3 linked regions of the Homo sapiens genome follow. The protein of the gene in region 2 purifies or fractionates together with the protein of the main gene of each other region. This does not show direct contact. Each region holds a gene or a part of one and is shown on either strand. Other genes may lie near its edges.

Region 1 (3,500 bases), on a different chromosome or scaffold from region 2:
AGGCTGAGATGGGTGGATCACCTGAGGTCAGGAGTTTGAGACCAGCCTGGCCAACACGGCAAAACCCCATCCCTACTGAAAAATATTGAAAAAATAGCCAGATGTGGTGGCGGGAGCCTATAATCCCAGCTACTCGGGAGGCTGAGGCAGGAGAATCACTTGAATCCGGGAGGCAGAGGTTGCAGTGAACCGAGATCGCACCACTGCACTCCATCCTGGGTGATAAGAGTGAAACTCCGTCTCAAAAAAGAGAAGGCACATTTCAGTATCCAGTGGCATTTCCAATGATTAAACTTATCCTTGAGGTTAAATTTAATAGTTTATGGAGAAAATAAAACCAGTAAGATTTTCCTAGAAGTGAAAGTAAAAAACTTGAATGAAACATTTCTTGCCTCCAATCAAAAATATCAAATTTTGTCAATTTATTGAAGTTCAATATAGGAACACAAGCTTTACTGAAGCTGTTAATTATGTAACACACAGCAAATTACATAAAATTGCATATGAAATACTTATGTTTATTAACACCACAGTCAAACGTGAATATTAATATAGAGCCTTCTCTGCCAAAAGAGTATAAAAATCCTAAGTTTAATTAAATTTAGGGGCCTTCACCAAACTTGCTGCAAGTTTGGGGACATAAATATCCAACAGCCATAAAGCTGTGAAAGCCCCTATAAGGAATAAAATAAATCCCACTTGCCTCAGACTGAACAGGGCAACACTGAGACTCAGCCTCAGCCTGTCCTATGGCAGGGCTATAGGAAGAAGAAAATTTTAATTTTAGAAAAACAGTTCCCAATTAATTTAAAAGACATGCATTAAAATTTTTTTTTTTAAAAATCCCAATGATCAAGCAAGCAAAAGGAGCAGCTTTGTTTTTAACTATTGTCCACTACAATTCCACTCTGAGCCCGTACTTCTTTTTGTTGGGGAATCCCCCTCCCCAATTAATTAAGTTTAATTAAGGTGAGTCTAAGTTCAAAATGTAACTTAGTGGAATAGGAGTACAGTAGGAATATTTTATTCATACCTAATGGCAAATGTGTGAGACACTACTAAAATACTAAGTATTCAAATCAAGTAATTCCAGCAGCCACTCAAAAATTAATCCTTACCTGCTGTGGTCTTGTTAAACAGTATGAAAACTTATACAACAGAAACTAGTGCCAGACAAAATGTTTTCTTGTTTTTCTAAAAGGGGTGGATGTAAGGTAGAGCCAAAGTTGCCAGCCCTACTAACCTTACAGCTTCCTTAATTATGACAATCACAATGCCTGCCTGAATTATCAAGTCCCAAAAGTTGTCTTCTGTGAGGGCAGTTGGCATCCACTTTGACTCAACTTCATCTACTACTTAAGGAAGGTTGAGTCAGAGTTAATTATATGAATATAATTTGCTCCACTCATAATTCAACCACACTATGGACCCCAGAAGCATTTAGAAAAAAGGTATTTTCTAGAAGCTTAATTACGTTTGGATGCATGCAAAAATTACACTTCAAATATATTAAATGGGTACACCACCTCTGAGCCTATAGCTACAAACTCAGGAACTCATGAGCTTAAGTTTTATCTGCCAATGCCTAACACTTTCAATTAATTTTTAATTAGAATTCTATCCCATATTTAAAAGTTCCATTTTTGCCCATCAGACCTATACAGAGAGCAAAAAACCTTGCTACAAAGTATCAACCTTCTTTGCATAAAATGCAAATAAAGCTTCACATAATTTCTGAAACAGGTCTACTAACCCTATTGCAGTTTGTCAATAACCGTATACATGAAATTCCTGAGAATTTGGGAGAGCACCCCTTACTTAATTATTCTAAATTTAATCACAGCATTTTTTTTTTTTGAGACGGAGTCTCAATCTGTCGTCCAGGCTAGAGTGCAGTGGTGTGATCTCCGCTCACTGCAAGCTATGCCTCCCGGGTTCACGCCATTCTCCTGCCTCGGTCTCCAGAGTAGTTGGGACTACAGGCATCCGCAACTACGCCCAGCTAATTTTTTGTATTTTTAGTAGAAACGGGGTTTCACCGTGTTAGCCAGGATGGTCTCCATCTCCTGACCTCATGATCCACCCGCCTGGGCCTCCCAAAGTGCTGGGATTACAGGCGTGAGCCACTGCGCCCGGCCTATCACACCATTTTTATCTTAAAGACTTTCAACACAAGTTTTCCTTCAGCAGTATATTAAGTGTGCTGCCAAATCAAAGCAGCATGTATTAATTTTGAAACCATTTAGGTAAGCAGAGGTTCAGAGGGGAAAGTGGTTTGGGACTTGGCTGCTGGCAGAAAGAAATACATTACTGGCAAAATACCTGTTTTATTTTCAAACTATGAAAATTTTTGTACCACTATGGTACCACAAGCACAGGAGCCAAAATCATTGAAGCCAGATAATCAGATATTTTAATTTATTTTTTGACAGAGTCTCGCTCTGTTGCCCAGGCTGGAGTGAACATAGCTCACCGCAGCCTCGGAAGGAGGAAGAACCTCCTTCCTCAGCCTCTTGAGCAGCTGGGACCACAGACACACACTAACGCGCCTGGCTAATTTTTAAATGTTTTGTACAGATGGGGTTTTGCCATGTTGGCCAGGCTGGTCTCAAACTCCTGGACTCAAGCAATCCTCCCATCTCAGCCTTCCAGAGGGCTGGGATTACAGGCGTGAGCCACTGCACCCAGCCAATGTGAGTTAAAATAGCATTCAGCTTTATAATACTTGCAATGTTTTGCTTAAAGGTATGACTTTCATCTGTCACATAAATACGAACTCTTTTGTGATGGCTAAATCACTTTTCAATATATTTTCCTTCAAAGTTAAAGCCCTTTTTTCCATACAACTTCAGACTTCATGTGTTTTATCTATACCTTCACAGGAAAGTTATAAAGAAATGTTACCATTTTCTTAGAAGTCTTAACTTTATAATGAGAAAAACTCAACTTGAGTTCATTATATTAATACTTTGCATAGGTTATTTGATGCCTAAAAAATCATAAAACTACCCTGCAAAAGATCAGAAAAACAGATCCCAAAAAGGTCAACAAGAGCTATTATTTTAAGAGGTTGCAACACAAAATATTGAATAGCAGTCATCTCTACAGAAAAGCTCTCTGTAAGAACACAACATTCAAAATTTCCAAGGATAAATAAAAAGTTGCACAGTAAGGCTACCTAGGCTTAATAACAGAAGGTACTCAAATGAATAATGTAATCTTCCAGGAACATAATAAAAATTGCCAATTCATCTGTTAACCATCCCAACAGAGACACATTTAGATTCTCAGCATTACACTTAGAATAATATATAATAACCCATTAACAGCACAAGAAGCTATTACTGCATGCACCTAAGCTTCTAGAAGTTTGCACCTGAAAAGCTTCTGAGGTCCATGCAGTACTGAGTCTCAAAAATAATCAAAAGGAAATGAATGGGTCTGGCACTAGGCTCTAAACATCTCAGCAGGAAGGAAAAGTGTTAACATTTACATTTTAA
Region 2 (4,416 bases):
TACTCATAAAGCCACAAGGAAATGAATTATTTTTTTTTTTCCTGAGACAGGGTCTCACTCTCTCATCAAGGCTGTAGTGGCATGATCTTGGCTCACTGCAACCTCTGCCTCCCAGGCTCAAGCAATCCTCCCCTCTCGGCTTCCCAACTAGCTGAGACTAGAAGTGCATGCCACCACGCCCAGCTAATTTTTTGTACTTTTGAAGAGACATGTTTTTGCCATGTTGCCCAGGCTGGTCACGAACTCCTGGTCTCAAGTGATCCGCCAGCCTAAGCCTCCCAAACTGCTGGGATTACAGGCATGAGCCACCGCACTCAGCCAGAAATGAATTCTTGCTAACAACCTGAATGAGCCTGAACATAGATTCCTCCTCAGTCAAGCCTCCAGATGAGAATACAGCCTGCCTGACACGATTGTAGCCTTGTGAGACCCTGAGCAGAGGACCCAGTGAGGTTGACCCACGGAAACCATGAGATGATAAACGTTTGTGTTTTAAGCTGCTAAATTTGTGGTCATCTGTTATGCAGCAATGGATAACAGAGACCACTCTCAGGAATTAGTGGATATGAGGGAGAAAGGAGACCTCTCTGTGCTTCCTCTGTTTCCCAGGTTTTGTGATCAGGGATAGGGAGAATTCGGCTATTGATACAAATAGGGGAATCAACAGTAGTAACCTATTGAGTGGAGGAAGGGGAGATGAAGGCGACTTCTGTCTAAGCGCTGAGTTGGGAGAAAATAAGAGTAGTTACTTAGAATTTGGGAGTGGGGTTTGTGTGAGAATTCAAGGCTGATGGAAAATTCGGTCATTATCAGCACAGAGTTGACAACTTAAGTCCTAAGAACAAAAGTGTTGTCCCACGGAGGGTGTTCAGAGAAGCAGGAGGATGGGATTCGTCTCGGGGAGAGGCCACGGGTGGCCCTGGAAGAAGGAAGGCAGAACCAAACCCAGGAGGGCCAGTGTACTGCAGAGTCAAAGAGTTGACGGATTGGCTCTGTTGCTCTGGATAGTCCATTTTCCCTTCAAGGGTAATTGCAGTGCAACCTCTAATGGGCAGACTCCATTTTACAGGTAAGAAAAGTTGAAATACCTGGACCGATACCATACTGACAGTAAGTGAGGGCTGGATTTGAACTCGCGTCTCATATCACAGCCCAAGATCTTTCTGCTACACATTTAATTCATTCTTACCATCCAAGAGAGAATAAAATGAATAAGCGGAGGGCCAGCAGAGAGACTAACGAAAGGTCCCCGAGGTGCCCGGGAGGCGGAGCTGCAAGACCACCCGCACGCGCACGCCGCCGCCCTCCTTGCCTGAGCACAGGTTTCGCGGGTAGAAGGCGTGCGCAGGCGCGGACACGGGCGCATGCGCGTTCACTCCGGCGCGCAGTGCCGGCCGGGGCGGGGATACGCCGTGTGCGCGGCCGGGGGCGGAACGGAGGAGGAGGCGGTGGTGTCCCGGCTGCGGGGTAGGAGTCCGCGGCAGCCTCCGGGTAAGCCAAGCGCCGCGCAGTGCTGAGTTCCCGCACGCCGCAGAGCCATGGAGATCGGCACCGAGATCAGCCGCAAGATCCGGGTGAGGCCCGTGCCGGTCGGGGGTGGGAAGCCAGGTCTCGGCGAGCGGGCGGTTGTCAGGAGTAACGGGGACTGTGGGCCCGGGTGGACGCCGCGGCCTGGCCTCCGCTGGACGCTCCTGGCGGGCTGCGGCTCCTCCTCGTCCAGGCCGCCTCGGCCCTGGGGACATTTGCGGCCTCGGAGCGTGGCTGCGGCTGAAGTAGCCGCCGGGAAATGGAAGGACAGGCGCAGGCCCGGCTGGAGCCACCACCGCGGCGCACGGCGCCGCTTTGGATCCGCTGCGGGAGGTGGGCGCCGCGGGGCTGGGGCTGGAGCTGGAGTGGGGTGCGGGGTGGGGGGCGGTGCAGGCGAGGCTCCTCCCAGCCCCCGCCCGGGGGATCCGAGGTGCGCGCACCAGCAAAGTGGCCTCAGCCGCTGCAGAGTCCGGTCTTGTTTTCCTAGAGCCGCCTTTCTCACATGCACGTTTGCTCTTTTTCTCTCAGAGTGCCATTAAGGGGAAATTACAAGAATTAGGAGCTTATGTTGGTAAGTGTTTTTTTGGTTGTTAGTCTTACAGAATTTAGAGTTTGCAGCTAATAGAATTTTAGTGAATGCGTATTTCTCACCGTACTTTGGACATTGGGAGAGACTCCCTTCTACCTTCTTCAAATCTTATACTCCCTGGTTACTTCTTTATCATCTTTTTGCAACCTTGTTTTTTTTCTCCCAAACCTCCTTCTGTTATGGTGTTTTGAAATTTAGTTTCCTCCGTTAAGGCTCTGTTTGACCGAATTTTATTTTATGTTTTTCCTATTCTCTCTCTCTCTCATTTTAAATTCTAGGGACGGGTCTCGCTACGTTGCCCAGGCTGGTCTTAACTCCTGGGCTCAAGCAATTATCTGACCTTAGCCTCCCTAGGTGCTGGGAGTGCGGGGATTACTGGTGTGAGCCACCATGCCTGTTTAAAGTTTCCTATTCTTGTTACTTTCCTCTTGACATTTGTTTTTAGAACTCTGATGTTGGATGTGAATGTTTGATGCTTTCTGGCATTTGCTTCTGTAATGGTTCAGTGAGTTTTATTTTCCGATCTCTTTATGTTTTCCCTCTCTCTCTGAAACAGTAAGGCTTTTTCCGTCTCTTTATTCTTTTATAATTTGAGTGTTTACTCTGGGTCAGGTACTGTGCTTAACTATTGTATATGTATTAACTCAGGATAATCCCTACGAGAATCCTGGAAGGTAAGTGGCAGTATCTTTGACTGTGTAAACAAGGAAACTGAGGCTTTGCCTACTTGAGCAAGGTTTTATGGTTTGCCCCCAAAGCTGGTGCCTCCTATAAAAATAATAGCTACCACTAATGACAGTGGTTCTCAAAGTGTGGGAGACTCCAAGGGCCTCTGAAGTCAAAACTGTTTTCATATTAATACTAAGATGGTATTTGTTATTTTTCACTGTGGTGGTGGTGTTTGGATTGTGTAAAACTAATGGTTGATAAAACTTGTCAGCATAGTAACACCATAATGAAATCATATTCAAATCACTCCCCCCTTGTAGTTTTTTTCTTTTTGAGCCAATTACACTTAAAATGTCATTGATGAAGATGTGAAGTCCAGGGTTTACAAAATATTTTTTATCTTCTTAGTATTCAGTGCGAGGAAATAGAAATGCTCATAAAACATTTTTATTGTATACTGAAATACGATTGTTCTGAGGAAAATCATTTTAGTTGAGAACTAAGCTAGCCACCTCTTTCAGGGAACATCATTTTTAACTTCAAAGTACTGACAAACTGGTTACATACACTAGGATATTTGGCAGATATTTACTTGAAAGTGAGCAAAGAAAAGAATCCATAGTCTTTGTTGCCAATCACATGTGAGCTTTCAAATGAAAATTAGAATTTTGGAAAATCTGAGCCTGCCTCCATGAATTTCACAGCTTCCCAGTACTTAAAAAATTTCTGATTAAATAAATGGTGATTTAAAAAAAATTTGTTATTATTATTATTTTTTTTGAGATGGAATTTCACTCGTTGCCCAGGCTGGAGTGCAGTGGCGTGATCTTGGCTCACTGCAAGCTCTGCCTCCCGGGTTCAAGCGATTCTTTTGCCTCAGCCTCCCGAGTAGCTGGGATTACAGGCATCTGCCACTACACCCAGCTAATTTTTTGTATTTTTAGTAGAGACAGGGTTTCACCATGTTGGCCAGGCTGGTCTCAAACTCCTGACCTTGTGATTCGCGTGCCTCAGCCTCCCAAAGTGCTGGGATTACAGGTGTCAGCCACTGCATCCGGCCAACTCAATGGCGATATTAAAAAATAATTATTTTATACTGCATAATGAAATATATCAACGTGTCAGTGGTTTTTGTAGCTAAGTGAACCAATCTTTTCTAAATAACCAATGCATAATATTACAAAATTATGCAGTGGATTAAAGATTTATTTAAACTCTGGGGTGGGTCAGTGGATTTTTGTGCAACAGTTCAAAAAGGTCATTGACGTATTTGACATTCCACGTTGCTTTAACATTTAATAAGCTACCACTTGTTTAGTTTTGGTGTAGTGTCACAGAAGAATATCCACCTTATCTGAAAAGACTATCAGAATACTCCTTTTTCAACTGCATATCTGTGAGACCAGATTTTTTCATATTCTTCAGTCATAAGCACATAGAACAAGATATATAAAAATATGAAACAAGGCCAGTCTTTGCAGTAAATTTTTCTTTTTCTTTTTTTTGAGATGGGGTCTCACTCTGTGGTTCGGGCTGGAGTGCAGTGGTGCAATCTTGGCTCACTGCAACCTCCGCCTCCCAGGTTCAAGCAATTCTCCTGCCTCAGCTTCCCGAGTAGCTGGGATTACAGG
Region 3 (4,204 bases), on a different chromosome or scaffold from region 2:
AAATAATTTGGTGCTGCCAGAGCCAAATATATCTAATAAGTGTAACGATGACTGATGGTAACAATGATAATGACTACTAAAATTTATTGAGCAACTGCCAAATATCGGGGATTGCCAAAATGTTTTATGAGTTAATCATTCAGTCCTCAACCAGCCTGTGAGGGTAGTAATATCATTAACTCCACTTTGCAGATGAGGGAACTGAGACCTGGAGGTAAAGTCACTTGCCCGAAGCCATCAGCTAGCAAGGAGCAGAGCCCAGGTTGAAACAAGGTGGGCTGGATCTTGGGACTGTGCCCTAGACCACCAGGCTCAATGCCTCCTGAGTAGAGGACTAAGAGTCAGGCACCCAGGACTCCGTACCAGCTCTGCAGCAGGACTGATGAGCTATTTCTAAAAGAACTGACCCTGCGGTTCAGGAAGACAAGCAGAGTCACAGGGGAAGCAGAAAAGTGCAGCCAACCACACCCACTCTCCCTAAAGTGAGTCAGAAATGGAAGGTTCAAGAAACTCACCTGTGTAAACCACAAGGAAAAGAGAAAACTGAAGAAAGAAGAAAACTCAAGGTCATCTGAGCCAGTAAATATCACACTACAGATTTCCGAGACAAGTCAGACCTGACCCCACATTTTGGGAACTAGCTTAAGAACAGGGCTGCCATCTTTATTTTACCAAATATGAACATGAAACAGATCTACCAGTTACCCCCATGAGTGGCTCTATCCAGCCACCATTTGCTGTGTGCCTTCCTCCTCGTGGGCTGTTGTTCCCTGCTCTCCCCTGGACTGCCTCATCCCTGAAGGCTGATTTCCCCAGAGTTCCACCCTCAGCCTCTTTTCAGGCCTCAGACGCTACCTCAGATCTGATCCACTCCTGGGGCTGCAACTACAACATACACCGCCCAATATCTCCCAAACCAGCCCAGCGCATTGGGGCCCTGGCCTTCCTCCCAAGCTTCTGACCTGAACAGCTGCCTCCTGGGCATGCTTCCAAACTAAAACCCTCTCTTGCTCTCTCAGTGAACAACACCCAGGCCACCGCAGGAACAGAGACTGAAGAGTCGTCACCTCTCACATATCCTCTCATCACACCGTCACCAGCTATCCCAAATTTCTCACACACATAGCCCTTGGAAAGCTCTAATCTAGATACTTCCAGACAGCTGCTTCCTAGAGGCATTTCCCAGTCACCCTGCATCTAGACAGGGTCACGAGACAGCTTCTGGTCAATGGGATGTGGGTGAAAGGAAATCCACCACTTCTAGACCTGGCCCACAAAAACCTCCCATGCATCCCTCTTTTCGATCAGCCCCCTCGAACTTGATAACCTAGGCTGGCCTCAAGAGCCATGTGCTGAGGGGCACAGAGCGGAGGTCAGTCAGCCTGCATCCCTGAATGACTGTATGGATCAAGGCCCCCACCCCATGCTCACTACTGGGCCTGACATGAGCAAGAAATATCTACTCTATTAAGACAAACATACACACACACACACAAAACAGGGAGCAAGCAAGAAAGGAGGGAGCAGGGGAGGAAGGAATTCTCCTTGATGACTAGCTTCCCAGTGGTTCCCCCACAACATCCTCCCTTAAATTGGCACCCACACCACTACCTTAGACTTCCTAAAACGCAAACCTGATGGTTGCTCTCTCCTGCCATTTTACCCGCCCCATCACCTCCAGGGTGAGGCCCAAATTCTTTAGCATAAACCTCAGCAATCCCTTCCACACATCCCACTGGCCACATGCTATGCACAGAACATGGACGCTAAGTGCTGGGGAGACAGCTGGAGCCTCTGCCCTCAGGGAGTTTCTATTCTACTGGCAGCTGGGTGCCATGAGGAAAATAAACAGTTCCCTGTGACCAAGAGTAAGGGGAGGAAAAATCCTCAAATGGGATGTGATCTTTAGGTTGAGGCCTGAAGGATTAACAAATAGGGCCAACCAAGAGCAAGAAGGGCATTCCAGGCAGAGCAAAGACTCCCAGAAATGCCCAGGCTCCCAGAAATGCCCGGGGGGGGGGGGGTGTTCCAGTCACAGAAGGGTCCTGGGTGGGCAGGGACCAGTGCCCCAGGACCTTGTGGGCGATGGCAGGGAGTCTGCATTTTCCAGTTTGTAAGCAGATTAATAGGGTTGAACTGGGTTTAAAGATCTCTACCAGCTGCTGGGCAGAGAAAACCTTCATTGTCTGGCCTCAAAGCTGGCAAGGGGCGACCCGCGGCGTCGTGGAGTTCCCCTAAGCCGCCGCCTCCCTCCCTCCCCACCCCACACGGCCACACCCGGGTGTTCCACCCGGCACTACCATGCTCTATGTAAATCACTCTCTCCCCCCAGGCGTCTAGAGGACCCCACTCGACCCTGAGTCCCTCGCACTGTGCCAGGTACTCCGCAGGTGCTCATTAAACGCTCGCTTTAGTGAATGACGGTGCGAGGTCAGGGCAGAGCCACCGAATTGTCTGCTCAAACTTCAAGTAGGACCCCCAAGCGGGCTGGAAGTGCGTGAGGGCGCGCAGGACCTCCGCCCGCCGTCGCTCCCGGCGCGGCGCCTTACCCGGCTCTCAGGAACTTGCAGGCGCCGTAGACCATGAACCTGCAGAGGTGGAGCTGCGCGCAGAGCCCCACGCAGCCCGGCTTGGAGCCCTGGTGCGCGCGACACAGGCGCAGCGGCGAGGCGGCCAGCACCACGCGCTCCGGGGCCGCGGCTGCGCCGCCCGCCCGCACCGCCACCACGAAGCGCCCACGCTGCCGCAGCAGCCGCTCCAGCGCGTCGGCGCTCAAGCCCATCCGCAAGCGGCGCCGCAGCTCGGGCAACTCCAGGGCGCCCCCGGCCGCGCACAGCACCTGGGTGACCTCACCGACGACGCCGGCCTGGGCCATGGCCGCTGGGCCTGCTCCCGTCGGACCGCGGGTGGCGCGACGCGGACGGCGGCGGACGCTGGCTGGCGGGCGGCTCTCGCAGGGTGGAGACGCCGGCGGGAAACGAAACCGAAAGCGGCCCCGGGCCGGCGAAAAACAGAACCTGTGCGCCCTCGCCACGCCCCCGGTCCGCAGCTGAGCGGCTGCGCCTTCCGCCTCAGGGCCCCCAGCTGTGAGGCCGCCGCCCGACGGAAGCTCGGGAGCTCTTGAGCTCGGGCGTTCGGCCCGGAGCGCGGGCTGTGGCTGTGGCGGCTCGCGGGGGTCAGTACCTAGTCCCTGAAAATGGCTTCCCTGGATGTTTGAGGGACCAGGAGCCCCTAATGCCGCGATGCTCAGCGCGCCTTCAGTCAGAGGGAGCCTCGAGGGCGGCGGCAGCGCTGGCGGAGCCGGCTGGACGCCGCCGGTTAAAGCCGCTCAGCGTCGCCCAGGCCAAGCCCGGGCTTCGTAGACGGCTCACAGAAACAGGGACAACTGACGGGAGCTCTCACCCCTCGAACAAGTGACAAAAGCGATCACTCCGCATAGAAGACGCACTTAATTAAAGGTTCCTTTCGCCTCGGTGCATCAATGAGTTCCTTCATTTAAACATAAAAGGGTATGTCCTTTAAAAGAGCAAATCCGTGAGCCGAGATTGCGCGACTGCACTCCAGCCTGGGCGACAGAGCGAGACTCCGTCTCAAAAAATAAAATAAAATAAAATAAAATCCGTTACTCCCAGCCCCTGCTAAGTAACGATTGAACAAATATTTTAGAAGACCCTTCAGAGCAAAGGACCCTCTCACACGCTGAGAGCAATGCGAGTTGTTAGAGCCCTTTGAGGAGGTAATCCAGGAATAGCTATTAAAATTGAAAACGCGTGTGACCTTTGACCCAGCAATCTTTCCTCTCGGAATCTTCCAGAAGTAAAAGGAACAGTAAATAAGTTATGTGTGAAAGTGTTACTGGGGGAACCCTACCTGGGAGGTAGGGTTACGTGGGAACAGTGTGGTTGATCTTTAAAGACTATTACGAAGGCTGTTTAACAAGCATGCGTTAGAGCTCCGTGTGCGGATGTAGAGGGGCAGACAGCCATGATGTGGTGGTAAACGAGAAAAGATGGCTGTACAGAAATGTCTAAATAATCAAGTTGAATGATCAAGAATTAATTTTTTTAAATGTCTGAATAACAAAAAGAGAAGCCTGTGTGTGTGTGTGTGGCAGGATATTTTTGAATAAGCACGGAGAAAGATGAAGAAACACACAAGGGTAGTTGAGAGGAGGCAGTAGGAGGTATTAGGAAAATGGAAAAGG

Evidence for each region.
Region 1: the proteins of ZC3H14 (region 2) and ZNF207 fractionate together in Homo sapiens (co-fractionation; one large-scale study listed by BioGRID). This does not show direct contact.
Region 3: the proteins of ZC3H14 (region 2) and PARP12 purify together in Homo sapiens (co-immunoprecipitation; one large-scale study listed by IntAct). This does not show direct contact.

What each region holds. Positions count from the first base shown.
Region 1 is NC_000017.11:32,370,657-32,374,156, reverse strand, and holds part of ZNF207 (BUB3-interacting and GLEBS motif-containing protein ZNF207), read right to left. Parts: 3' UTR 1-3,500. UniProt on the Homo sapiens protein: Kinetochore- and microtubule-binding protein that plays a key role in spindle assembly. ZNF207/BuGZ is mainly composed of disordered low-complexity regions and undergoes phase transition or coacervation to form temperature-dependent liquid droplets.
Region 2 is NC_000014.9:88,561,596-88,566,011, forward strand, and holds the start of ZC3H14 (zinc finger CCCH domain-containing protein 14), read left to right. Parts: upstream 1-1,441; 5' UTR 1,442-1,538; coding exon 1,539-1,574; intron 1,575-1,751; exon of another isoform or gene 1,752-1,860; intron 1,861-2,055; coding exon 2,056-2,098; intron 2,099-4,416. UniProt on the Homo sapiens protein: RNA-binding protein involved in the biogenesis of circular RNAs (circRNAs), which are produced by back-splicing circularization of pre-mRNAs.
Region 3 is NC_000007.14:140,059,973-140,064,176, forward strand, and holds the start of PARP12 (protein mono-ADP-ribosyltransferase PARP12), read right to left. Parts: upstream 2,980-4,204; 5' UTR 2,876-2,979; coding exon 2,550-2,875; intron 1-2,549.